3 separate regions of the Homo sapiens genome follow, and regions 2 and 3 are each linked to region 1. A link means that fine-mapping ties the variant in region 1 to the expression of a gene that starts in the linked region. Tissue or cell type: esophagus mucosa. Region 1 holds a variant in brackets; each other region holds the start of a gene. All regions are shown on one strand. Distances are from middle to middle.

Region 1 (8,101 bases):
GGCTCACTGCAACTTCCACCTCCTGGGTTCAAGTGATTCTTGTGCCTCAGCCTCCCGAGTGGCTGGGACTACAGGCATGTGCAGCCACACCTGGCTAATTTTTGTATTTTAGTAGAGATGAGGTTTCACCATGTTGGCCAGGCTGGTCTCGAACTCCTGACCTCAGGTGATTCACCTGCCCCAGCTTCCCAAAGCAGGCCCATTAACCTAGCCCCTGGGAGAGTGGTCTGTGGAGGGAGTCTCCAAAGCCTACTCTGTCTCAGATCTCAACTCCTTCTGCCTTTCTGGGATTCTGGGAACCCCTCCCATGCCTCACCCCATTTTCCCTGCAACAGATGAACAGAAGGAATGTCTGCCATGAGCTACTGCTCTGTCCACCCTGCACAAGCTTGTGACCCCGTGCAGTGGGTCTGGGATGGGGCTGCAGGGCCACTGTGGAGGCAGCGGGACTAGCCATTGTGGCTAGGTGGGAGGAGCCCTGCAGGTGACCTCCTGGAATGGGAAAATAAGCAAGATCATGTGGTGGCCTCAGGAAGGGCTGGAGGCATGGCTGGCTCTTCATCAGCATAGAGGTAGGGAGGGGGCAAAGCAGAAAGTCCTGCCTCAGTCCCCCACTTTCCCTGCATGTTGATACCAGGGCTTTTGGGTATTCTTGTTTCCTCGTTTGCCTCCTCCTCATCCCCACCCCTGTGGCTACAGTCCTGGTCCCCTGTCCTGCCCTGGGGGTGCACAGGCTGCCTGTGGAATGAGTGAGGAAGGATGGGAGGACTGATGGTGTGGTGGATAGACAATTCAGGGAGGAGCAGGTGAGAGAGAAGGAGGCAAACAGTGAGTGGCTGCATGGCTGTGAAAAGCAAGGAAAGTTGGTGAGGAGTGTCCAGTACCAGAGGGGCTTTGGGTGTGGGTGGATGGAAATGAACAATTCGCCAAAAAAAGAACACTACATAGCCAGGTGTAGTAGTGCATGCCTGTGGTCCCAGCTACTTGGGAGGCTGAAGTGTGAGGATCGCTTGAGCCCGGGAGGTCAAGGCTGCAAAGAGAGATGATCGCACCACTGCACTGCAGCTTGGGTGACAGAATGAGTTCCTGTCTCCAAAACAAAACAAGACAAAACAAACAAACAAAAACAGAAAAAGGGGAACACTACAGAAAGGTGAGGGCCATTCTGTGTTCTCACTCAGGGCCCTGGACACAGGATGATCCCGGATGGTGAGGCGGAGGTGAGGACATTGCTGTATGAGCGGAGAGTTGGCTGAGCTGCTAGAATCCCTTCCTCTGAAACGAAGCAGTGAAGGGATGGTGTGGGGAAGGTTGTCAACCAGCCAGCATGCTCCTGGGCCTGTGGAAGGGGAGAGTGTCCACGGTTCACTTGGGGTCCCAGGGACCTTGCCAGCCCTGTACTGGGCTTTGGCATGAAGGGGTGGAGAAGCTCTTCCAAGCTCTGACTGGTGTCTTGGTTACTAAATCCTGAGGGTGGCATGATGAGAACACCAGTGGGGAGCCTTTGGCTGTGGGGTTCTGTGAGTGAGGCAGCATGAAGCAGAAGTTGCCTCTAGATGTCGCCATCTGACCACACTGGCATCAGCTGAGTGCCGTTGGAGGAAAATGTTCATGAGATGCGGCCTGAGGCCTGTCCCCAGCCCAAGCTGGGTCTCCTGGCGACTGCAGCTTGGAGCACCTTTGGAAAGCCTCCTGGGACTTGGGATGTCTTTGGGGCTGGGAACAAGTGTGGGTGGAGGAAGGGCCGGTCCTGTGGTCACCCAGCCCTGTCTTGTAGGGAAGGAACTGCTGGGGTCCCAGGAGAAGCCAGAGCCAGGCAGTGAGCTCCAGATGGTGGGGGAGTGGCTGCCACCTTGACCATCTTCCCCCGCATGGCTGTTCTCCTCTGTGGACCACCCCATGCCTCTGACCCCCATCCTCCCTACCCCATTCCCTACAGCCAGTCCCCACAACCACTCTTCCAGCAGCCCGGGGGGCCATTCCCATCTGTCCTCCCCTGTCCCAGTTCCAATAATGGACTACACCACCTTTATCTTCCACTGCCCCAAATGACGGCTGTCCGTCTAGTCAGTTCCACCCACTACACCACAGTCATCGTGACCATGTCACTCCTTTGCTCCGAACCATGGCTCCCCCTCACCCTAAGGAGGAAAGCTCAGACTCCCTCTCCCCAGGGTGGCCTCTCCAGCCTCCTCCATCTGTTCCCAGCAGGGTGGGCATGGCTGTCACATGTTCCTAGAACATGCCAGGCCTTTGGCCTTGCTGTTCCCTCCGCTGGAACACCTACCACTGCACCATCCACCTCCACCTGTCTTGTTCCTGCGACTCAGCATGACTCTGCTGAAGCATCCCCTGCCCTGGGAAGACTTCCTGGCTTTCCAGGCAGTACCAGCTCCTGTCTCCAGTTCCCATGGCACTGGGACCTCCATCACATCTCCTCAGATAGCTTGCCAATGTCTGTCAGTCTGTCTGCCCTCTTGGCGGCACCAGGGACCTCCTCTGACTCTCCTCTGAGTCCCCAGGGATCAGCCCAGTGCCTGGTATGAAGTAGGCACTTGCACATGCATTTAAAATGTTAGGGAGGAAAGAGTGGGAAAAGAGAAAGAGATCCTTGTCTTTCCTCACAAGCTGAAGTCACCTCTTGCAAGCATTGGGCCTGTGCCCTGGTTATCCCTGGGATGGAGCCGAGAACCCTCCAACTTTTGCTTCTTGCTATGGGCTTTTTGTTTTGAGACAGAGTCTCACTCTGTTGCCCAGACTGGAGTGCAGTGGCAGGATCATGGCTCACTGTAGCCTCAACAATGTCCGGCCTCTAAGCCCAAGCTAAGCCATCATATCCCTTGTGACCTGCACGTATACATCCAGATCACCTGAAGCAACTGAAGATCCACAGAAGAAGTGAAAATAGCCTTAACTGATGACATTCCACCATTGTGATTTGTTTCTGCCCCACCCTAACTGATCAATGTACTTTGTAATCTGCCCCACCCTTAAGAATGTTCTTTGTAATTCTCCCCACCCTTGAGAAGGTACTTTGTGAGATCCACTCCCTGCCTGCCAAACGTTGCTCCTAACTCCACCGCCTATCCCAAAACCTGTAAGAACTAATGATTAATCCACCACCCTTTCTTTGCTGACTCTCTTTTCGGACTCAGCCCACTTGCACCCAGGTGAAATAAACAGCCTTGTTGCTCACACAAAGCCTGTTTGGTGGTCTCTTCACACGGACACGTGAGACAAACTTCCCCTGGCTCAGGTGATCCTCCCACCTCAGCCTTCCGAGTAGCTGGGGCTACAGGCGTGCACCATCACCTGGCTAATTTTTGTATTTTTTGTGGAGATGAGGTTTCGCCATGTTGCTCCAGCTGGCCCTGTTATGGTTTTAAGGATAACCACAAATTCCTTGACACTCTTTCCATCAAGGAGTGGGGTCTAATTCCTCTCCTCTTGAATCTGGGCTGGCCTTAGAGTCTTGCTTATAACTGTCTCACGCACGTCCATGTGAAGAGAGTCCACCAAACAGGTTTTGTGTGAGCAACAAGGCTGTTTATTTATTTTGGACTCAAGGCGGGCTGAGTCCGAAAAAGGAGTCAGCAAGGGTGGTGGGATTATCATTAGCTCTTATAGGTT[T/C]GGGGATAGACGGTGGAGTTAGGAGCAATGTTTGGCAGGCAGGGAGTGGATCTCACAAAGTACCTTCTCAAGGGTGGGGAGAATTACAAAGAACCTTCTTAAGGGTGGGGGAGATTACAAAGTACATTGATCAGTTAGGGTGGGGAAGAAACAAATCACAATGGTGGAATGTCATCAGTTAAGGCTATTTTCACTTCTTTTGTGGATCTTCAGTTGCTCCAGGCCATCTGGATGTATAGGTGCAGGTCACAAGGGATATGATGGCTTAGCTTGAGCTCAGAGGCCTGACAACAACTAATAGAATATAGTAAGTCTTTATATAATGTCCTCACTTAATGTAGTTCTTGGAAATTGCAGCTTTAAGCAAAATGACATACAAGGAAACCAATTTTGTCATAGGCTAATTGACATAAACAAGAGTTAAGTTCCTACAGCATATTTCTGGTGATAGAAATATCATCAGACTTCTAAATAAAGACCCAAATGCTTCTCATATTAAACATTGAAACACGTGTAAGAAAGACTAATAGAAACAAGGCCAGGTGTGGTGGCTCACACCTGTAATCCCAGCACTTTGGGAGGCTGGGGAAGGTGGATCACCTGAGGTCAGGGATTTGAGACCAGCCTGGCCAACATGGCGAAACCCTGTCTCTCCTAAAAATACAAAAATTAGCCGGGCTTGGTGGTGGGCACCTGTAATCCCAGCTGCTCAGGAGGCTGAGGCAGGAGAATTTCTTGAATCCAGGAGGCGGAGGTTGCAGTGAGCCAAGATTGTGTCATTGCACTCCAGCGTGGGCAACAAGAGTGAAACTCCATCTCAAAAAAAAAAAAAAAAAAGAAAGAAAGAAAGATTAATAAAAACAAGTAATAGAATTATTTATCCAGTTATTCCAGTTCAAGGTCATGGATGGCTGGAGCCTATCCCAGCAGCTCAGGGCGCCAGGCGGGAACCAGGCCTAGACAGGATGCCATTGCCTTGAGTACACTCACACTCATGCAGACTGGGAGCATGCAGACAAGCTAGTTAATCTAACATGCACATCTTTGGGATGGGGGAAGAAACCAGAGTACCCAGAGAAAGTCCTCTACAGACTCCACACAGACAGTAGCCCCAGCCAGAAATAGATTTTTTTCTTCATCAATGTTGTAACAAAATAATGTTGAACAAAATGAGCCAGGAGTGGTCGCACACCCCTGTAGTTCCAGCCACTTGGGAGGCTGAGGCAGAAGGATCGCTTGAACCCAGGAGTTTGAGGTTACAGTGAGCTATGATCATGCCACTGCACTCCAGCCTGAGCAATAGAGACCTGTCTCTAAAACAAACAAACAAACAAACAAACAAATCATTAAAAAAAATAATAAAAGCTTTCAGTGACATCCTCCCATTTCTGCCTCCCACCATCCTCCCCTGCTTCCAAGGAGTCAGAAAAATGTCACAATCCCTTCATGATGTGCAAGGCTGAGTGTGACCTGGCCCTGCCCACTCTTCAACCCCATCTCATACCTCTACCACTTCTGTGCTTCAGCCACTCTGAGTTGCTTCCAGTGAGGGAGTCTCTCTGTTAACTGGACATAGTAGGGACTCAATTTGTGATAATTTGTGATCATAAACTAGGTCACATCTGTGAGCCTTGCTGAGCACTTTACATGTATTATCTCATTTAATCTTCATGCAACCCTATGATCAAGTATTATTAACCCATTTTACAGATGAAGAAACTGAGCCTGGGCATGTAAAAGGTTGTGCCCAAGGTCACAAAAATAGTAAATGCAGAGTCGAGTTTGAAACCCTGGTGTCTGAATCCAAACCTTCCTCAGCAATCATGTGATTCTACCGAATAGGTATTGATTTGATAAGAAGCATGTGCTCCACCTGCTCCCCAAAGGCCGGGCAGCAACTTAGGAGGGAGAGTGAGCTGTTGGTCTATGGAAGCATTCTAGCAAGAGCTGGGGAGCACTAGGCAAGATGTGAATTGGACGGAGTGTGGGGGCCCCACCCTGAGGCTGGGACCTCTGCCTATGCCTGGGATTGGGGGCTGTGTGCACGCATGGGTCATGTGATACCCTGTATATGGCCTTTCCCTGTGTCCAGGCCAGCCTAGTCCTTGGGGCTGGGGGTGGGCAAGAGCAGGTGGAAGCTTGGGGAGCCCGCCTCGAGCAGGCAGAGTCCAGCAGACCATAGCCTGTCCACTGTCCTGACCCTGTGGCCCTGGACTGGCCTCTGCCCTGGGCCTGGCACCTCTGGCTTGGGGAAGGGCCCAGAACTACTCAGGCACACAGTGAGGCCTGCCCTCCCACCTGCTACCAGGCAGAATTTATCTCAACTGAGTGAGAAATAGAGAGAGGGAGAGAGAAAGAGAGAAAGGGAGAGAGAGAGAGAGGCAATTGCGTAAGAGGATTTGAACAAAAATGGTTATGGCACTGGTGTTTGTAAGAAAGAGAAACTGGACACTGTTTACATGTCCTCCTCAAGGGCTGGACAAAGAGATTCTGATGTGTCCATCCTGGCAGACTTTAGAAATAATTAGGAAAAGAAAAAGTGATGGGGGAAGATCTTTATAGTTTATCTGACAGGAAACTGCTAATTGTCAATACTGTAAATGTTGGGGGGAATTGATCACAAAACAGAATGTACAGTGTGACCCCAAGTTGAAATCCTTCCCCCAGCCCTCACACACACTCTTCCACCAGCTCCCTCGTGACTTACCCTGTTGGCCAGTGGCCAGAGGGTGGGGGAGGGGGCTTATCTTGGGAAGTGGATGAGATCACCCCGAGGCTGGCTGGTTTAGTACCGGGTAACCTTTTCTACCCTTATGGCTCTCAGAGGCTTCTGTGCTGGCTCCTAAACCTTGGCGCCAACCTCAGGCTGGAGGGGGTTATGCTCCCCCTCCCCAGGGTGGAGATGGTGGCCAAAGCCGGATAGGGCACAGGTGCTGGGCTGACGCAGAGATGGAGTGGCAGAGGGGGTCTGGGGAGTTCCAGGGCTCAGCTGGGACCCTATGAGAACTCTGCTCCCAGCAGATCTGGGTGTCCTGTCATTTCCCAGGGACCTGTGTGTGCAGAAAATACATTTTGTGGATACAGGAATATCCCAGAGGATAGCCACTGTGTGAAGGGCCGAGGGGTCTCCCTGGCAGTGCCTCTAACACCTTGGCATGTCTTGGGATTCCAGTCAGCCAGCCGGGCTCTCCTCGGACAGGACTCCTCTTGTTTCTGGCCAAAATTCTGGTGAGGATGGTTGTGGGGGGAAGAGATAAGTCTGTGTTGGGAAAGGGACTAGGGCTCAATTCCAGCTCAGCAAATAAATATTCTGTTCAACCCTCTGCCTGCCCCCTACCTCCCACGCCCCCACTCTCCCACCCCCCGGTGCCTATCAGGCGACTTCCAGCCTTAAGGAAACTTTGCAGTGTGTCCCAATCCCCTGAGCACAGCCACACCTCTGAGCCTTTGCCCAGACAGTTGTCCCAACCTGACCACCTTTCCCCTCTCCAGCTGCCTTTGTCAACCCCCACCCTGGAGCTGGGTCAGGTGCCATCTGTCCCCAAGTCAGCGTCCATCATGTCAGCTTGTCTATGTTCATCTGGGGTGAGCCTGAGGGCAGGAGCTGGGTCCAGGGAAAATTCTAGGACATGCTGGATGAAGGAAACAGTGGGCTCCTGGAAGGGATCAGGGGTTGGGAGAGGACCAACTGTGTGCTCAGACCAGCTGTTCTGTGCCAGGGCCTCGAGGGGGGCACCTAGGAGCCTCAGGCCCCTCAAACCCCACAGCAAACAGCAAGAGAACAGGGTGTGGGGCACTCTGCCTGGGCTCTGCCGGCGAGGAGCAGGAACTGGACAGAACCAGAGTGAGCTGGAGTGTCTCCTCCTTAGCCTGGGCCCTGGGCAGCAGGGCTGGGAATGGAATTCTCCAGTTGGATGGAGCTGTTCCTGGAAAATCCCTATATGCCCTCCCAGAAATGTGCTCTTGTGCCTGGCTCTTGCTTCTTCAGAGTTGGAGGAGAAGGGACCTTTCTGCTGCTAGGCAATTCAGGCAAGGCCCTTACCCTCTCTGGACCCCTGGGCCTAGACTCCAGGACAGATGAGCAGGGATTTGTGCATCTATTGAGTGCCATCTGTCAGCCTCACTAAATTCTCTCACCCACCCTGAGAGGCAGGGATCAGGGTTCCCATCATTTGGGAAGGAGGTAGATGCTCGGAGATGCCAAGTGGCTTACCCAAGGTCACATAGCGGAGTTGGGACTCAAGCCCCTACCGATCGAGCGTCAGCCTGCACGCAGTTCCAGCCCCCGACCTACATTTAGGGTCCCTGAATGGACAGAGCAAGCCCGCAGGCTGAGGATGCCACTGCCAGCTCAGGTCCACCTGACTGAGGCCAGGCCTGGCCCTGTGCCTGCCACTCAGAATAACCCTTGTGGTTCTGGGCATGGATCGTGGCCCATCACCTGGGACCTATTTTTGTCCTTCGGGTAACA
Region 2 (8,101 bases), 22 kb after region 1:
CATCCCGGTCTGAAGCCTCAAGGAAGAGGAAGGGGATGCCTGGTTCACGGTGGGAGGGCAAACTGTAAGGGATAGAGAGGGTGGGGAGAGTCTCCCATGCCTCTCCTATTTCTCCTCTGTCCTTTCTTCCCTATCCATTATCACATCAGGACTCCGGAGATGAGCCACGGCTTTTCGTCCTACTTCCCAGATGAGCAAACTGAAGCCAAGAATGGATGGCACCCTCAGTGGAGTAGGGAGGAACAAGGTGGGACAGAAATGGTACAGGATGGGCCAGGTGCAGTGGCTCATGCCTGTAATTCCAGCACTTTGGGAGGCTGAGGCAGGCAGACCACCTGAGGCCAGGAGTTCGAGACCAGCCTGGCCAACAAGGCGAAACCCCGTCTCTTTTAAAAATACAAAAAAAATTAGCCGGGCATGGTGGCGGGTGCCTGTAATCCCAGCTTCTTGGGAGGCTGAAGCAGGAGAATTGCTTAAACCTAGGAGGTGGAGGTTGCAGTGAGCTGAGATCGCGCCATTGCGCTCCACTCCAACCTGGGTGACAGTGAGTCTCCATCTCAAAAAAAAGAAAAAAAGAAAAGAAAAAAGAGAAAAGAAAAGAAAAAAGAAATGGGACAGAAATGGCTGCCCTGTCCTATGCCAACTGTCTGGCCATCTCTTCGCTCTCTGCTGTTCCATCAAGGCCCACCTGACCTTACTGTAAATTGGCTGCCCTGGTCACTCACCAGGCCTGGTACCCCGGCTCAGCCGAGCTCTGTAGATGGCTTGAGAGAAATGGGGCACCTGGTCATTCTCATCCTTCACGTGCACAAGCACAGGCTGTGGACCCCACAAGACATGTCCATCCTGCATCTCCAGGGTGACCTGGCAGGGAAGGGGAGTCAGCGTCTGGCTCTGCCTTGCCTGCTCTCCCCTACACCTGGCCCAGCCATACCTGTAGCTGGTACTCTGCCTGCTCCTCTCGGTCCAGGGCCCTGGTCACCAGCAGGAAGCCAGAATCTGGATCCATAGCAAATGGGCCCTCAGTTGCCTTGCCTGAGTCCCCTGACAGCACGATCTGGCCTTCAGCCCCCTCACGGGGCAGCGGCAACTGATGGAAATGAACAGAAGTGAAGGGAGCGGTGGCCAGGCCTGGGAGATGCCCCTCCTCCACCTGATGGCCTCATTTTACATGTGGGGAAACTGAGTCTCAGAGACATCTGGCTCCTGTCAGAGGTCACACAGCCAGTAAGCATCAGGACTGAGACTCAGAGCCAGAACTCTTTTCCCTGGACCTGATGCTCCCCAAAACTCTCTGCCCTTCTTTCTGAAGCTTGAAACCTCACCACCGAGATTTCGTTCTTTAATCTAAAGCTCTGCTCTCCACTAGGATTAAAATCTGTTAGTCATTCCCACTGCAGGTTGAGCATCTCTAACCCGAAAATCTGAAATCTGAAATACTCAAAATCTGAAACTTTTTGAGCGCCAATATGATGTGACAAGTACAGAATGCCGCATCTGACCTCATGTGACAGGTCACAGTCAACACATAGTCAGAACTTTGTTTCATGCACAAAATCATTAAAAATATTCGCCCAGGAGCAGACTCACACTGGGCTCTTGGCCACTCAAGGATTCTGTCGGAATTTCACCTCTGTACTGTCAGCTCCTTCTGGCCATAGCCTCCCCAGCTCGCAAATCCCAAAGTGGTAATCCCAGCACTTTGGGAGCCCAAGACGGGCGGCTCACCTGAGGTGAGGTGTTCAAGACCAGCCTGGCCAACATGGCGAAACCCTGTCTCTACTAAAAATACAAAAAAAAAAAAAAAAAATTAGCCAGGAGTGGTGGTGCATGCCTGTAGTCCCAGCTACTCAGGAGGCTGAGGCAGGAGAATCTCTTGAACCCAGGACGTGGAAGTTGCAGTGAGCTGAGAACATGCTACTGCACTCCAGCCTGGGCGACAAGAGCGAAACTTCGTCTCAAAAGAAAAAAAAATGTATAACGTTACCTTCAGGCTATGTGTATAAGATGTATATGAAACATAAATGAATTTCCTATCTAGATTTGGGTTCCATTCCCCAAGATATCTCATGATATATATGCAAATATTCCAAAATCTGAAGAAAAAAAAAAATCCAAAATCTGAAACACTTCTGGTCCCAAGCATTTCAGATAGGGGACACTCAACCTGTGTAACGTGTACATACTCTCTGGAAAGCAGGATTTCAAAGAGAAACAGCAAGAGGAAGGGTGCCAGAGGAAGGAGAAGCAGGACTTTGCGGGGAGGGATCCCCCCGGCCCCAACCCCAGCTCTCCGGCTCACCTTGGTCAGGTATAAAGGGAAATTTCCACCATAGTTTTCTGGAACTTCCACAGACAGCTCTGCAGGCTGGGCCTTGGGGAGAGCCTGTGGGAGGATTCTCACCTTGTCACCAGGCTCTATCTTCCTGCGTGGGCACTGAGACCCAACAGAAGAGCGGAATTTCCGCCCCTTCCCAGGGCCTGGCTGTACCTTAGTCCATCCACCCGCGCTCTGGTCTTTGACCTCCTCATCCCACAGTGGCTCTATAGTCCCAGCTCTGACCCCTCCCATGCCTTGCACCGTTCTCACGGTCAGTGCAATTGGTCCAGGTGGAGTTGGGGGCAAGGGTGTCAACCCCCAAAGCCAAGACCTGAAGGAGAGGGGGCAGGGCCTAGCTCACCTGGGGGACGGAGACACAAAGCAGCCACAGCCAGGCAGGGACCATGGTCAGGACAGGCCTGAGGGACACGGCAGTGAGGATCCAGCCCAGGTGGGTAGGGAGGGGCTTTCCATCCCACACACACAACTAGTGGGATCGTACTGCAGACTAGTCTTCTCTTCCTCCCCTCCAAAGGAGCTGAGGCTCTCCATCTCCTGCAGGGTAGTGCCCTGCTCCTCGGCCAGGCCCACCAAGGCCCCCAGGCCCAGCCACCCTGCTTCTAGGCTCTTGGTCCATCAAGCACTCTATCAGAATTTCACCTCCAGACCTCCAGCTCCTTCTCACCATAGCCTCCCCAGGCCGCAGATCCCAAAGTGGTAATTTTCTAGCAATCCCCCAAATCACAAAAGTTTGAAGCTGGAAAGTTCCTGAAGACTTGGAGGGTCACTTCCTGAAGTCACCTCTTGTTGCAGGCAAGGCCTGAATGCTGGGGTCTGGCCAAGGTCACAGAGGACTTGACCACAGGAGGAGTCCTCCTAGCTCAGGGCCTCTGGGACTGTCCTGCCTCCCACTGCCACCTTCTAGACAAGGAGAACCCCCGGAGCAGGAGCCCGGCCCTTGTCTCATCATTTTCCAGCCCTTGTCATGGAGCTGGGCAGGCAGAGCAGCGACAAATCGACAACCCCTCTAAGATGAGGCCCTGGGAATTCTTTCCCAGATGGCGAGGACAGGGCAGTGTTTCTCCTTTCCCCACCACCAACCTCAGCCTCAGCCATGCCCTCCCCTCCACTCCCAGCCCCTCACCCTCCAGCGCCCAAGACTGGCTCCCTTGGTCCAGCTGCCAAGCAAGAAGAGAGCTCCTTCTCCAGGGGGCTCTGGCCAGGCTGGGCTGGGTGGGGCAAGGCAGGGCACTTGAGCAGGTAGGAGGGTTCAGCCACGCTTGCTCAGGAGTGGAAAAGGCCACTGGGCCCACAGCAGCAGGCCTGGCCCCGCCCAGCCCCCCAAGTTACTCATTGACTTTGGAAAGCCAGGAGCTGCTCAGCATCCGTGACTGCCAGCTCCAGGAGGTGGGGAGATGGTTGGCCTGGCACTCCCTCGACCCCAGCACAGCCCAGGAGGTATTCCTTGGCCCTCTGGTTCTGGACGTTACTTTTTCTGTGGCTCCAGACTTGGTCTGACTTATCTCCCAGGCTCCAGTGTCTGCAGCCACACCTTTTCACACTCTGTTCCTTTTGCATGGAACACCCTTCCCACTCATTCATCTGTGTGGTAAGCACCTGCTCATGCATGCTTCAGTGCTCAGCTCAAATATTCCTTTTTCCAGGAAACTTCCCCTATGTTCCCAGGCTTGTTCAGGAGCCTCCTCTGGGAATGCCCCTCCCCCTCACACCATGCCATGTGCTATCTCTATTAATACACAGAGGACACCAGCTTGTCATTGTCTGCCTCTTCCATTAGATTGGGAGCCCTTTGAGAGCAGAACTCAGGGACTCAGGAATGACCTGGCTCTCATTCTGCCCTGGCAGCTCCGCATGGCTTGTGGAACTAAGACAAGGAGCTGGAGGTTGCAAAGGATGGGTGAGCAGTACATGAGTGGAAGTGGGTATTGGGGCTCCAGACCACCCCCCCCAGGGGGACCTGTGGTGGGGGAGTGCAGCAGCCTATGAGCTCCCGAAGTCCTTACACTGGCCACTCAACAGTGACAGGGCTGAGACAGTGGGCAGTCTCATGCCCCTAAGAAGATTAAACTGGCTCAGGTGACCTTGAGGGAGTTGCAGGGCTGAACAGGGGCTCTCCCCGCAATGAGGGCAGCCAAGCAGAGCCAGGAGATGCTTCTGGGGCCTGGGAGTCTGGAATGAGGGGAGAGGGTGGGAAGAAGGTCTCCAGTCCCTCTCCAGCCTTGGAGCTTCCCATGGTCCCCACGAAGTCCTTCCCACTGTACATCTGATTAGTCTCTCTCAGGCCAGAAGCTACCCCCAGCTGCCCCCAGCCTTGTCACAAGCTGAGTGCCTGCTTCAGGGTCACTCTGGCACCCAGCCTGGAGCAGTGTAGTGTGGGGAGGTTGAAGGGGGTTTCACACGTGTTAAGCTCCTGCTCTGTGCCCAGCACTGCTCTGAGCACATACCTTCATTATGCCACATACTGCGTTCTGAAGGGGCATTGGGCACATGCTGGGGCACAGAGAAGCTGAGTGGTTTGCCTAGGGTCACACAGTCAATAAGTGACAGAGCCAGGAAGGCCTGGGGACCCTCACTTGATCTGAAAATACCATGCCTTCTGCATTCCTTGAAGTATGTGGGGAGGAGGGGCAGAGCAGCAACAGCTCTGAGCAGTTACCTCTGCCCTGGGGAGCACGTGGGTGAATCTCAGCGCTCCCCTGTACATGGAGGGGCAGCCCTCAAGCCTCCTCCTGCCATTCAATAAGCTGCAATCAGGATTCTAACCAGGTTGCCAGGGCTCCCTGGAGTCTGTGGAATGAATAAATTGAATAAATTGAACTAAGGAAGGAATGTATGGACCTTGGCCCAGAACCTTCTTAGAAACTGCCCCCCACCTTGCCCCAGGCTGCCTCCAGGCTTTGGAGATGGGCAGACCTGTATACCAGTCCCCACTCAGCCACTTCCCACCCAGCACCAGATGGGGATGGTTTTTCCTGAGACCATGTAGATAAAAACTCTTAGCAGCACTTGTGCCGAGGGTGAGGGAATGAATAAATTGAATAAATTGAACTAAGGAAGGAATGTATGGACCTTGGCCCAGAACCTTCTTAGAAACTGCCCCCCACCTCGCCCCAGGCTGCCTCCAGGCTTTGGAGATGGGCAGACCTGTATACCAGTCCCCACTCAGCCACTTCCCACCCAGCACCAGATGGGGATGGTTTTTCCTGAGACCATGTAGATAAAAACTCTTAGCAGCACTTGTGCCGAGGGTGAGGGAGCCATGGGCATGGGTGGGCAGGGAGACAGGTGCATCCCTAAACATAAGCACGAGTACACCTTCCTATACAAATGCAAGACCTCTCATTCCAGGCAGGGCGGGCTCCCGGCAGCTGTTCCCACCAAAACTGAATTAGCCAATGCTGAGCATGGAATGTTCTGGCCTGGATACTCATGGTAGAGAGAACAGTGAGTGCCTCCTCCGTAGCTCAACCCCAGTGAAGTGGTGGAGGAGCCATGTGGAGCTGTGTGTGCCTTCACAAACCACCCCTCGGAGGTCTCTATCCCCAACCTCAGCTGATTCCAGCCCCTCAAGAGGGAACAGGGCAGAAATACCAGCTGTGGAGCCAGATCCTGTCTGGTTGTGAGACCCAGGGTTCCTGCCTGGTTGTGAGACCCAGGGTTCCTGCCTGGTTGTGAGACCCAGGGCAGAATGTGCTCCCCTGAGCAGCCTGTTTCCCTTTATGGACAGTGAAGTGATTGAACCCTCAATCAGTTGGGCAACGCCAGGCCCCAGTGCAGAAAGAGAAGAATCTGGATAACAGGGACTGGGAGGGGTTTGTGTCTCCTGCTCCTTGAACCTCTAACCAGACCCGATGCCCATCCCAGCTGGCTAAATCTGGACCCTCACATTAACACATCATGGCCACACACTAGGGTGGGGCAGTGAGCCCCCATCCCTCAACTTCAGAAATCCTTCCAGCTCCTGAAGCGCCCAGATAGGAGGAAAGAGAGTCAACAGCCATGACTATCAGGAAATAGCCTTTATTACAAAAATCTGCATGTAAACAAATAGCTACCGCACTGAAGAGCCTCCCTCCAGGGCAGGCACACCCGGGCTGTGAAAAAAGGCAGAGTCCTCTCCCGGCACGCAGGCCTGCCCGGCGGCTGCGCTGCGGCTGCTTGGGACGCATATGAGCCTGCGCATGCATCTCTGTGGGCCCAGCCCTCACTGGCCCCTGAGAGCCACTTCGCAGGGCAGCACTGTCTATCTGTCCATGACCATGAGGTTGGGGGTGCCCGGCTGGCAGCTCCGAGGGACCCAGAGTCTGAGCCTGCTCTGAGGCACCCGGGGCAGTTGGCTGGGCCAGCCCACCAACCCTTCCGTTCGTCTCCCACCATAGTGGGAGCGGGTGGGACCTAGAGAACCGAGAGGTCGTGGCAGGACTTGGATTTGGCGCGAAAGGCCATCTTGCGGCTGTTACGAGCTACGATGCGGCCCAAGAAGCGCTTCGCCTTTTTGCCAAGGCTCTCTCGCCTCCGGGTGCCTGCTTGCCGTCGTGCGTTGGCTTCTTTGCTGTCCCTGCGCAGGCGTATCTGGCGCACGACACCTTCAAACAGCGCCTGGACATTGTGGTGCAATGCCGCTGATGTCTCAATGAACTTGCAGTCAAAGACCACCGCGCAGGCCCGGCCCTCTGTGTGGGTGGGGAAAGGCAGGCACCAGTAAACAAAGGGTGGGTGAATGAGGAGTCCCCTCCAACAGTGGCCACCCATGGAAGCTGCCACTCGAGAATTTGCAAGGTCCTCCCCGAAAACACAGAGACCCCAGCTCCTGTACTGAGGGTACTGGGCACTGCTGCGTCACCCAGTAGGCAGAGTGCCTGCATTTAAGGAGCCCCCAAAACAGTGGCCCTCAAAAGGAGATCCATTTATTGAAATAATTTGAAGCCTGATATTTAAACAAAGTACGACAGTAGTAAACACAGGAAAATGAGAACTATGTTGGACAACTTAGTATTTTATTTTATTTTATTTTATTTTTCTGAGATAGAGTCTCGCTGTCTCCCAGGCTGGAGTGCAGTGGCACAATCTCTGCTCACTGAAAGCTCCGCCTCCCGGGTTCACGCCATTCTCCTGCCTCAGCCTCCCGAGTAGCTGGGACTACAGGCGCCCGCCACCACGCCCGGCTAATTTTTGTATTTTTAGTAGAGATGGGGTTTCACCATGCTAGCCAGGATGGTCTCGATCTCCTGACCTCGTGATCCACCCGCCTCGGCCTCCCAAAGTGCTGGGATTACAGGCGTTAGCCACCCCCTGGCCCATGCCCCGCACAACTTAGTATTTTTTAATTCGAGGTTATATCATGATGAATGATCCAGTGGACTGGGGTTGCGGAGGCAAGGTCACCAAGTCACTGCTGGGTTCCTCTGAGGGGCTCAGTACTGGGGTCCACAGAAAAGGATGCTGAGGCCAAGTGGGAAGGGTCTTCCCCAGGGCCAAGTCTACTCTAAGAATGGCCCAGACCTAGCACACAGGCTCTGACCTCCTGGCCTGTTCCCCTACACTCTCTTCCACCCATTTACCCCCCCAACCAGCCAGGCCAGGACCAAGAGGGGCAGGAGAGGAGGGCCCTGCGGTGCCCAGCTCCCCTATCAGATTTGGTTCTTTCCCCAGCCCTCTGGGGCCTTCCGGAGCCCTGTGAGCAGGCACCAGCTCTCTCCCATTTCCCTCCCCGCCAGTTTTCTTTCTGAACATTTTTAGCCTCTGATGATCCCCAGGGAC
Region 3 (8,101 bases), 37 kb after region 1:
AATAAAAAATAAAAATAAATAAATAAATAAATAAATAAATATTCTTTTGATTGGGCTGGTTGGGGTGGCTCATACCTGTAATCCCAACATTTTGGGAGGATGAGGCAGGAAGATCACTTAAGCCCAGGAGCTAGAGTCCGGCCTGGGCAACCTAGGAGACCCTGTCTCTACAAGAAAATTAAAAATTAGCCAGGCACGGTGGTGCATGCCTGTAGTCCCAACTATTCGGGAGGCTGAAGTGGGAGGATCGCTTGAGCCCAGGAGGTCAAGGCTGCAGAAAGGTATAATTGTGCCACTGTATTCCAGCCTGGGCAACAGAGCAAGACTGTGTCCCCTCAAAGAAAAAAAAATTTGGCCAGGAATGGTGGTGTATGCCTGTAATCCAAGCTACTTGGGAGGCCAAGGCTGGAGGATTGCTTGAACCCAGGAGTTGGAGGCTGCAGTGAGCTACAATCTTGCCACTGCACCTGGGCCTGGGCAACAGGGTAAGACCTTGTCTCAAAAACAAAACAAAAACAACTATGATGACACATTAGGGAAATCCAGATATGCCTGGGTATTAGATGGTGTTGAGGAACTGTTCATTTTCTGATCAGATAAAAGTATTGTGGCTATACAGGCTTATATTGACTATAGGAGCTGCAGTACTTCAAAGTGAAGAGTCAAGTCTCTGCAGCTTACTTACTGATATTTATATATGCACACATAAATATGGCCAGTGTTGCAATATGTCAACAACTGTTGACTCTACTGGTGGTGGTGAGCATACAGGCACATTCGTACACTACTCTTTCCATTTTGATTTTATTTTACGAAAAGTTGCAAGTACACCACCCTTTAGAGGCACTTACTACCACCATCCCCCCCTCAAACTCCAAATGACTCCACCAAGATGAAAGACACCAAGGCATGCTGGGAACTGAATATAAATTAACTTTATTACAAAAAGCAAAATGTTAGTTTCTCATTGTGAGTGATTCAAGAAAACAACGGTAACAGCCCTGGCAGGAGCTGGGACCAGGATACCAGTATGCAGGCTGAGGGGTCAAAGGCCAGGCTCAGGAGCGGGCTGACAGGCACTGATTCACAACCTCCAAGAGGTGGGTGTTCTCCAGGGCAGCTGCCACCCGCTCCTTATCTGCAAGTTGCTTGTTCACTAGGTGGGAAGAAGGGTGTGGGGAAGGCAGAGTCAAAGCTAGGCTCTGGCCAGAGTGCTAGCCAGCCCTACCTCTGAACCTCTATATAGGATATGTCCCCCGCAGCAACAGAGCCCTCCTGTCACCTCCTTCCCAGGACCCCACATATTGATCAGGCTACTTCAACCACCTGAGCCCACCTAATCTGCCTTCTTAGGATCCCTCCCCCTGGCTGCCTCCTGCGCTGCTGAAGCCTGACACACTCTGGTCCTGTATATTTGGTGAGAGGGGATTTGGGAGAAGAGGACATGGTAAGCAAAGGAGAGTCTTCTCAGGCCAGCTTCGGTCTAGGCTATAACCCATACTGAGGAGTCTCTGGCAATTTCACTCACACAGTTACCCATCTCCAGTCTTGCCCATAGACTCCTGTGCAAGGGGGAAGCCTCAGACTGCTTAGGGGGTGCCCGGGCCAACACCCTCACCACCAGTCCACACTTACCTGCATGCTCTGAGGCATGGGTCCCCGGAGTAATGTGCACGTCCATCTGGGAGGGAGATAACCAGGGCCTGAACACCCACCCACCGACCCACACTTTTCCCTGCAGCCCCCAGACCCTCAGGCACCATCTCCAGCTGATCCTTCCTCCTAATCATGCCTTTGGACTCTGGCCCTTCCGTTACACCCCAAACCCATCCACAGGTATTCCAATTCTTTTTTTTTTTCCAAGACTGAGTCTTGCTCTGTTGCCCAGGCTGGAGTGCAGCAGCGCAATCTCGGCTCACTGCAACCTCTGTCTCCCAGGTTCAATTTGATTCTCCTTCCTCAGCCACCCGTGTAGCTGGGACCACAGGCACACACCACCACGCCCCACTAATTTTTGTATTTTTAGTAGAGATGAGATTTCACCATGTTGGCCAGGCTGGTCTCCAACTCCTAACCTCAGATGATCCACCCGCCTCAGCCTCCCAAAGTGCTGGGATTACAGGCGTGAGCCACCGCGCCCGGCCCTAGCTATTCCAATTCTATCCAAAGAACTGGCCCACTACTGTTGATTTAAAGGCCTGCCTGTGCCCCACCCCTGGTCCAAACCCATCTGCCGCTCCCTACTGCCCTTCCTGCCACACTCTTCAATACTTTTCTCCACTTTCCAGCTCAGATCTTTATTCTTGTCACATCGACTTGGAAAGCTTCCTCCCAGTTTCCTCTCTGCTAATGGGGATCCTTCCAGGCCCCACTCTGATGTCCTATCCATGTTCATGCTCTCCCAGTCCCCATCCTCAGCAGTAGACCCTCAATGCCTGGTCTCACTCCCGGGGCTCAGCTCCAACTGACCTTGAAACGCTGAGGAAGGGAGCGCAGAAGCTTGACCTTGATGGACAGACCAATAAGGGTGGCCATGCTGCAGTGCGGAATGGTTGGTGTGAAAGCCACAGCCACTGTACTCTCGGGGTCGCTAACCTGGTTGTGGAGGAGAGATGTCAAGAGTCAACCACCCTCAGCCCAAGGTCCCTCTTCTTAGTTTGTTGTTTTGGGCAAATCATCCAACTTCTATGGGCCTCAGTTTCAACACCCATAAAATAGGCACAACAATCTCCCTCCCCAAAGATACCCTTCGGTGTTCGTGAGCATAGAGCACGCCAGCTCCTGCTGCACAGAAACCTTTCTGACTCTCTGGAACAACTCGCTCCCCTCGGAAGTGACTCACCTGAACCCGCACCTGCTCTACTACGTTCAACTCCTCTAGCGTCAGTGGATGCTCCGGGTCATTGATGGAGCGAATCAGATGTGGGAAGTGAAGGAAAAGGGACTCTGCGCCCTTGCCCACTTAGAACCCTCTGCCAGGAACGCCCTGCTGGGATGCGGCTCCACCAGCTGCTCGATATCACTGCTCCCCCCACCGCAAGCCCCCGGAACCCGCCCGCGCCCAGCAGCGGCGGATATCGAAGATCTCGCGTGCGTCGATGCTGTCGGGAACCTGCTCGTCCTCCTCGCCTGCCGTCACAGGCCGCTCCCCAGAGCGCTGGTAGATGAGGGGGTTGGCATTCTCCAGGAGGCCGCCGCCGACCCCGCCGCCGCCTACCATCGCGGAACCACCACCGCTGATCCTAGCAGGCGTGCGCTTCCGCTCCAACCCGCGCACTTCCGGAGAACGGGAAGGGGGCGTGGCGTGGCGACGGAGTCGCGCGAGGGACACGCCGCGTTGTGGGTTCTCGGCCTGAGGTGCGAGAGAAGCGGTGACCGCGGCCCTGGCTGCTCGGACCCGGGAACATGATGGTCGCTGGAGCAGAAGGCGCTGAGAAGGGACCACGGCGGCGCTGGGTCGTGCGAGCCAGTAGCGGGCTGAAACGTAGAGGCCAGAACCAGGTCTCAGGGGGCACTAAAGGCGGTCGGAGGTAATCCCCACACCGCTTCCTCCTGGAAGTCAGGCTGGCCGGGAGCTCCCGTATCCAGGACGGTTGGTCGCCTCTGGCCTGGCAGGGATCCTAGTGTCTCGGGACCTCCCGGTGACGCGCCTGCCTCCCCTGCTGCACCATAGGCCCGGGAGTACGGCGTCCCCACAGCTTGGACCGGCAGGGGCTCGTGAAATGTTTGTCAAGTGGATAAATGACCATGGCCGTGGTCTCCGCGGGAGGTGAGGAAACTGAAAGCCACCGAGGAAAAGGGGGGCGCTCCTTAAGAAGTGCCGCGGTCACGTGTACGTTTCAAAAGAATGGCGTGACTGAGTAGGGAGGGGACCGCGGAGACCCTCAGACCCTGGACTGTAAGGAGATGAGGGGCCGTGAAGGGGAACCCAGGAAACTGAGTCCTGAAAGCAAGGAGGAACTTCCAGAATGAAGGGCGCCGACACTCCTTCCTGCCTTTGCTCAAGCGGTTCCTTCACCCCGATCAAGTTCCTTCCCATTTCTCCATCTGGGGGATCCTGAACGTGCACATCCTCAGAGAAGCCCTCCTGGGGTCTCCAATTCTAGTTTATTGCCCCCTCCTATCGATCCCCCAGCGCGCTCATCGGGCCTGTGGACAAGGACAGGTTTGAAGAGAGGATTCCCTGGATCGCGGAAGGGCTGCAGGAATGGCACAGCCCCTTCCGAGGATGCCAAAGGAGCCCGGGCAAAGGAAAGTGGCCGTGCCCGGGCCTGCCTACCACTAGATCCCCACCCACCTATGACTGCTCAGTCCCGCTCTCCTACCACACCCACCTTTCCCGGCCCAAGCCAGCGCACCCCGCTGACTCCCTGCCCAGTCCAAACTCCAAGGCTGGGCAAGGCACTGATCCACTGCTGGACAGACCCGGGGCAGCCTCTGGGTGAACAGCAGCGTGTCCGCCGGCAGCGAACCGAGACCAGCGAGCCGACCATGCGGCTGCACAGACTTCGTGCGCGGCTGAGCGCGGTGGCCTGTGGGCTTCTGCTGCTTCTTGTCCGGGGCCAGGGTGAGGCTCCCTCGGAGGGGCGACAGGGACCGGGCTCAGATCTGCCAAATGCTGCGGAGGCAGAACCTGACAGTGCGGGAGGGCAGGCGCCTGGGAGGTAGGAGCTGGTGGAGATGACAGCGTGGAACTCGTGAGCCCCACGCAACGCCTCCCCGCCGCCCAAGGTGGGCTCCTAGAAGCACAGAAAGGGTCGGGCTGGGGGACACCACGGCAAGGAACCAGCGGAGTACAGGGGCCCCAGGAGCGCCGGGACATGCCAGGCCGGGTAGGCAGCCTGGGGTCGGAGTGGGTGAGGGATTGGGGTGTGGGGATTCAGTCCATTTCCCTCTTATGATTGTGGCTGTAGCGGGTGCTGCCGGCCGGTAATAACAGTAATAGCTTCTGGCAGCATCTGGCTCTCAGTGTGTGGCGTCCTTGGCCAGGGGGGATGCCCTGAGCCCTCCAAAGGGGCCTCAGACAAGGATAGTGGTCCTTGGGGAACAGAAGCCCCCAGGCGCCAAATCCTAAAGCAGATCTAAGAGGCCACAGTGGCTGGGTGCGATTGGCTCACTCCTTTAATCCCACCACTTTAGAAGGCCAAGGGAGAGTATCGCTTGTGCCCAGGAGTTGGAGGCCAGCCTGGACAACATAGTGAGACTCGGAGTGTACAAAAAATTGAAAGAAATTAGTGGGCTGTGGTGGTCTGTGACCTGTAGTCCCAGCTACTTGGGAGGCTGAGGTGGGAGATCACTTTAGTAGGGGAGGTTGAGGCTGCAGTGAGCCTTCATCCCACTACTGCACTCCAGCCTGGGTGAAAAAGCAAAAATCTGTCTCCAGAAACAAGAACCAAAGAGCTCGTGGTGTCCCTCATGCCATTTACCTCATCCTGGGCAAGGGCACAACTTGGCTTCCAGGGCAAAGGTGAAGGCTCTGTGTGCCTGCCAGGCTTCTCCAGGCCCTTATCAGAAGCTGGGGGAGTGTTTCGGCCTTTGGTCCTCTCACCCGAAACTCTCCTAAGTGTATGATCTGTCTCTTCCAACCCTTCCCCAATTTAATTTGCGCAGGTGGAGTCCATACTCCCCCCGCCCCATGGTGCACTGCTGCAGGGCTTCCTCCCGTGCCTGCCCTTGACCACATTCTAGAGTTCACCAGGAGCCCAGCAGGAAGATCTGCCTGGCCTCACAGATGGCTACCTTTTAAAATATTTTGGGCCAGGCACAGTGGCTCACACCTGTTATCCCAGCACTTTGAGAGGCAGAGATGGGAGGATCACTTGAGGCTAGGAGTTAGAGACCAGCTTGGGCAACAAGACTTGTCTCTACCAAAAAAAAAAAAAAAAAAAGTCAAGCATGGTGGCAGACAGCTGTACTCCAAGCTACTCAGGAGGCTGTGGCGGGAGGATCTCAAGCCCAGGAGGTGGAGGCTGCAGTGAGCTGTTATCATATTACTGCATTCCAGCCTGGGCAACAGATGGCGACCTTGTCTGACAAATATATATGTATACAAAATTTTGGGTTGGACCCACATTCAGAAAAAATAATTGACAAGCCATAGGAGGGTACAGGTGATGTGTGCCATCCTCTTTTTACCCAACCAGTCCTGGCTTCTCCTCAGGGGCCATCAAAGTCCCCATGGCCCACACTGGAAACTGCTTGTTGACACCGCAGTACACACAGTGCCCAGCAGTTTACACAAGAATAGATGTGTGCACTTGTCCTTGATTTTCATCTAAACAGTCATAAACTCACCCACTTTCTGGAGCCAGGCTTTTCTACAGCTGGGACTACAGGCATGCACCACCACACCCCGCCAATTTATTTCCTGATTTTTTTGCAGAGACAGAGTCCCACTATGGTCCCCAGGCCAGTCACTGTGCTTTTTATATCCCAGCCACAGCCATACTTTTCTCTTGCACCTCTTTTCACCAACATCACTCATGGTTTGGATGATGCTTTCTTTACATGATTTCTTGCCACTTTGGACATGACATCCCTGAGGACAAGAAACTTGCCTGCCCAATTCCCACCATCATCCTACTGTCACATGACCTGGCACACAGTTGAAGGACACTCTAGTCCCATCAAGGGCATGTGACCCTTTGTTTGAAGGTCCTAGGGCTGAATGATGATGCCTGGCCCCAAGGAGCCTCAGCCTGGTGGGATGGAGACAGGCCCAGGAAGCCAGAGCGGGAAGGGAGTGTTACAGGCAGGAAGTTTGTAAAGCCCATGTTTACAGATCAGAGTCCCTTGAGCTAAGATGAGGATGGCAAGGAAGCAGCAATACCAACAGTTGGGAGGGCAGTCGATTGGTCAAACCCAACCGTGATGTCTGTCTCTCTGCCCACAGGCCAGGACTCAGCCAGTCCCATCCGGACCACACACACGGGGCAGGTGCTGGGGAGTCTTGTCCATGTGAAGGGCGCCAATGCCGGGGTCCAAACCTTCCTGGGAATTCCATTTGCCAAGCCACCTCTAGGTCCGCTGCGATTTGCACCCCCTGAGCCCCCTGAATCTTGGAGTGGTGTGAGGGATGGAACCACCCATCCGGCCATGTAAGCTCTCCAAGGGGTCCAGGGAACTCCAGGCCCTGGGGCAGGGGTGGGGGTGCTCTGAGCTCAGCTAGGCTGCAGTTATCATTTCATCTAAACCCCCACAGCCAGTTTTCCTTCTGAGTTTCGTGGATTCCCACGTGCATTTTTCCAATGAGCATGCTGAGGCTCAGGAGGGCAGAATAACTTCTCAGACTCCTGGATCAGGGCTTGGCATTCAGAAGACATTGGCTCCAGGTGCCGAAGGGAGGGGCAGACACACGTATCTCCCCAGATTCTGGTTATGCCAAGCTTTCTCTGCCACCAGTGGCAGGTGTCTCTGGGAAAGGTTCGGGTTGGCTCTATGAACCTTGTAGGAGCCCCTAACTCTAGTGGCAGATGTTGCAAATACCTGAAGAGAACAGTAGTGGTAGCTTTCTGGGGACCTGCACTCTCCACAGGCACTGTGTCCACTGACAGGACCAGGAGCCATTGGCCAAGAGACATGTATATGTATATGTATATGTTTCCAACTGGAGGCCATGTAGGAATGATGAGTTTTTGAGAGTTTAGACTTGGGATGAGAGACATCCCACTGCCCTTCTCATGAGAAATTAACATCCATTCACTCATGTAGCACACATATGTGGGCTACTCCCCTGTCCCAGGCCTTACGGGTTACAGGAATATAGTGGTGAATGTCAACACATGCAGCCAATGGTTCTCATAGAAACCCCTAAGAGTCAAGGTTTCCGGCAGTGCGAGGAATGATACCCAAGGTCCTCAGTAACCTCGAGGCCTCCCTGGAAGTCCAAGCTGCATCCCAGCTTCCCCAGAGCCTGTGGCCTGTAACTTGGTGGGAAGGGATTTTTGAGAGGGATCATGTGTGAGCAGGATATTGTGGGAAGGGTCTGAGGGTGGCTGGGAGCACCTCTGAACCCAGGGTCTGGTTTTGGCCACAGCCTGGCCCCTGGACTGATTATTTGCCCTGGTTACCAGGTGTCTACAGGACCTCACCGCAGTGGAGT

What was found. PIP is the estimated chance that this variant, and not a neighbour inherited with it, causes the effect.
Region 2: CDH16 starts here. The variant in region 1 is fine-mapped to the expression of CDH16 in esophagus mucosa (GTEx, PIP 0.98).
Region 3: it holds the start of CIAO2B, and the variant in region 1 is fine-mapped to the expression of CIAO2B in esophagus mucosa (GTEx, PIP above 0.99).

What each region holds. Positions count from the first base shown.
Region 1 is chr16:66,893,814-66,901,914 of GRCh38, forward strand. LOC124903700 (a long non-coding RNA gene) reads left to right here. Exons shown (of 2, transcript XR_007065089.1): 2 at 1,182-3,201. It overlaps LOC107984821 (a long non-coding RNA gene), which reads right to left. Exons shown (of 3, transcript XR_001752244.2): 2 at 6,780-6,855; 3 at 5,876-6,680. Among named protein-coding and RNA genes, the nearest start is that of PDP2, 17 kb to the left of the region's middle. RefSeq lists enhancers at 5,295-6,190, 6,191-7,084. The variant T/C (reference allele first, on the strand shown) is at 3,631.
Region 2 is chr16:66,915,340-66,923,440 of GRCh38, forward strand. It overlaps CDH16 (cadherin 16), which reads right to left and starts at 3,546. Exons shown (of 18, transcript NM_004062.4): 1 at 3,465-3,546; 2 at 2,682-2,739; 3 at 2,303-2,386; 4 at 935-1,090; 5 at 726-864; 6 at 1-39. The coding sequence starts at 2,726. RRAD (RRAD, Ras related glycolysis inhibitor and calcium channel regulator) reads right to left here. Exons shown (of 5, transcript NM_004165.3): 5 at 6,346-7,014. The coding sequence ends at 6,737. RefSeq lists enhancers at 6,303-6,826, 6,827-7,350.
Region 3 is chr16:66,931,145-66,939,245 of GRCh38, forward strand. It overlaps CIAO2B (cytosolic iron-sulfur assembly component 2B), which reads right to left and starts at 3,258. Exons shown (of 5, transcript NM_016062.4): 1 at 3,079-3,258; 2 at 2,843-2,922; 3 at 2,470-2,595; 4 at 1,636-1,681; 5 at 921-1,156. The coding sequence starts at 3,220. The coding sequence ends at 1,059. It overlaps CES2 (carboxylesterase 2), which reads left to right and starts at 4,372. Exons shown (of 12, transcript NM_001365405.1): 1 at 4,372-4,567; 2 at 6,893-7,097; 3 at 8,073-8,101. The coding sequence starts at 4,492. RefSeq lists enhancers at 2,864-2,913, 2,944-3,143, 3,982-4,594.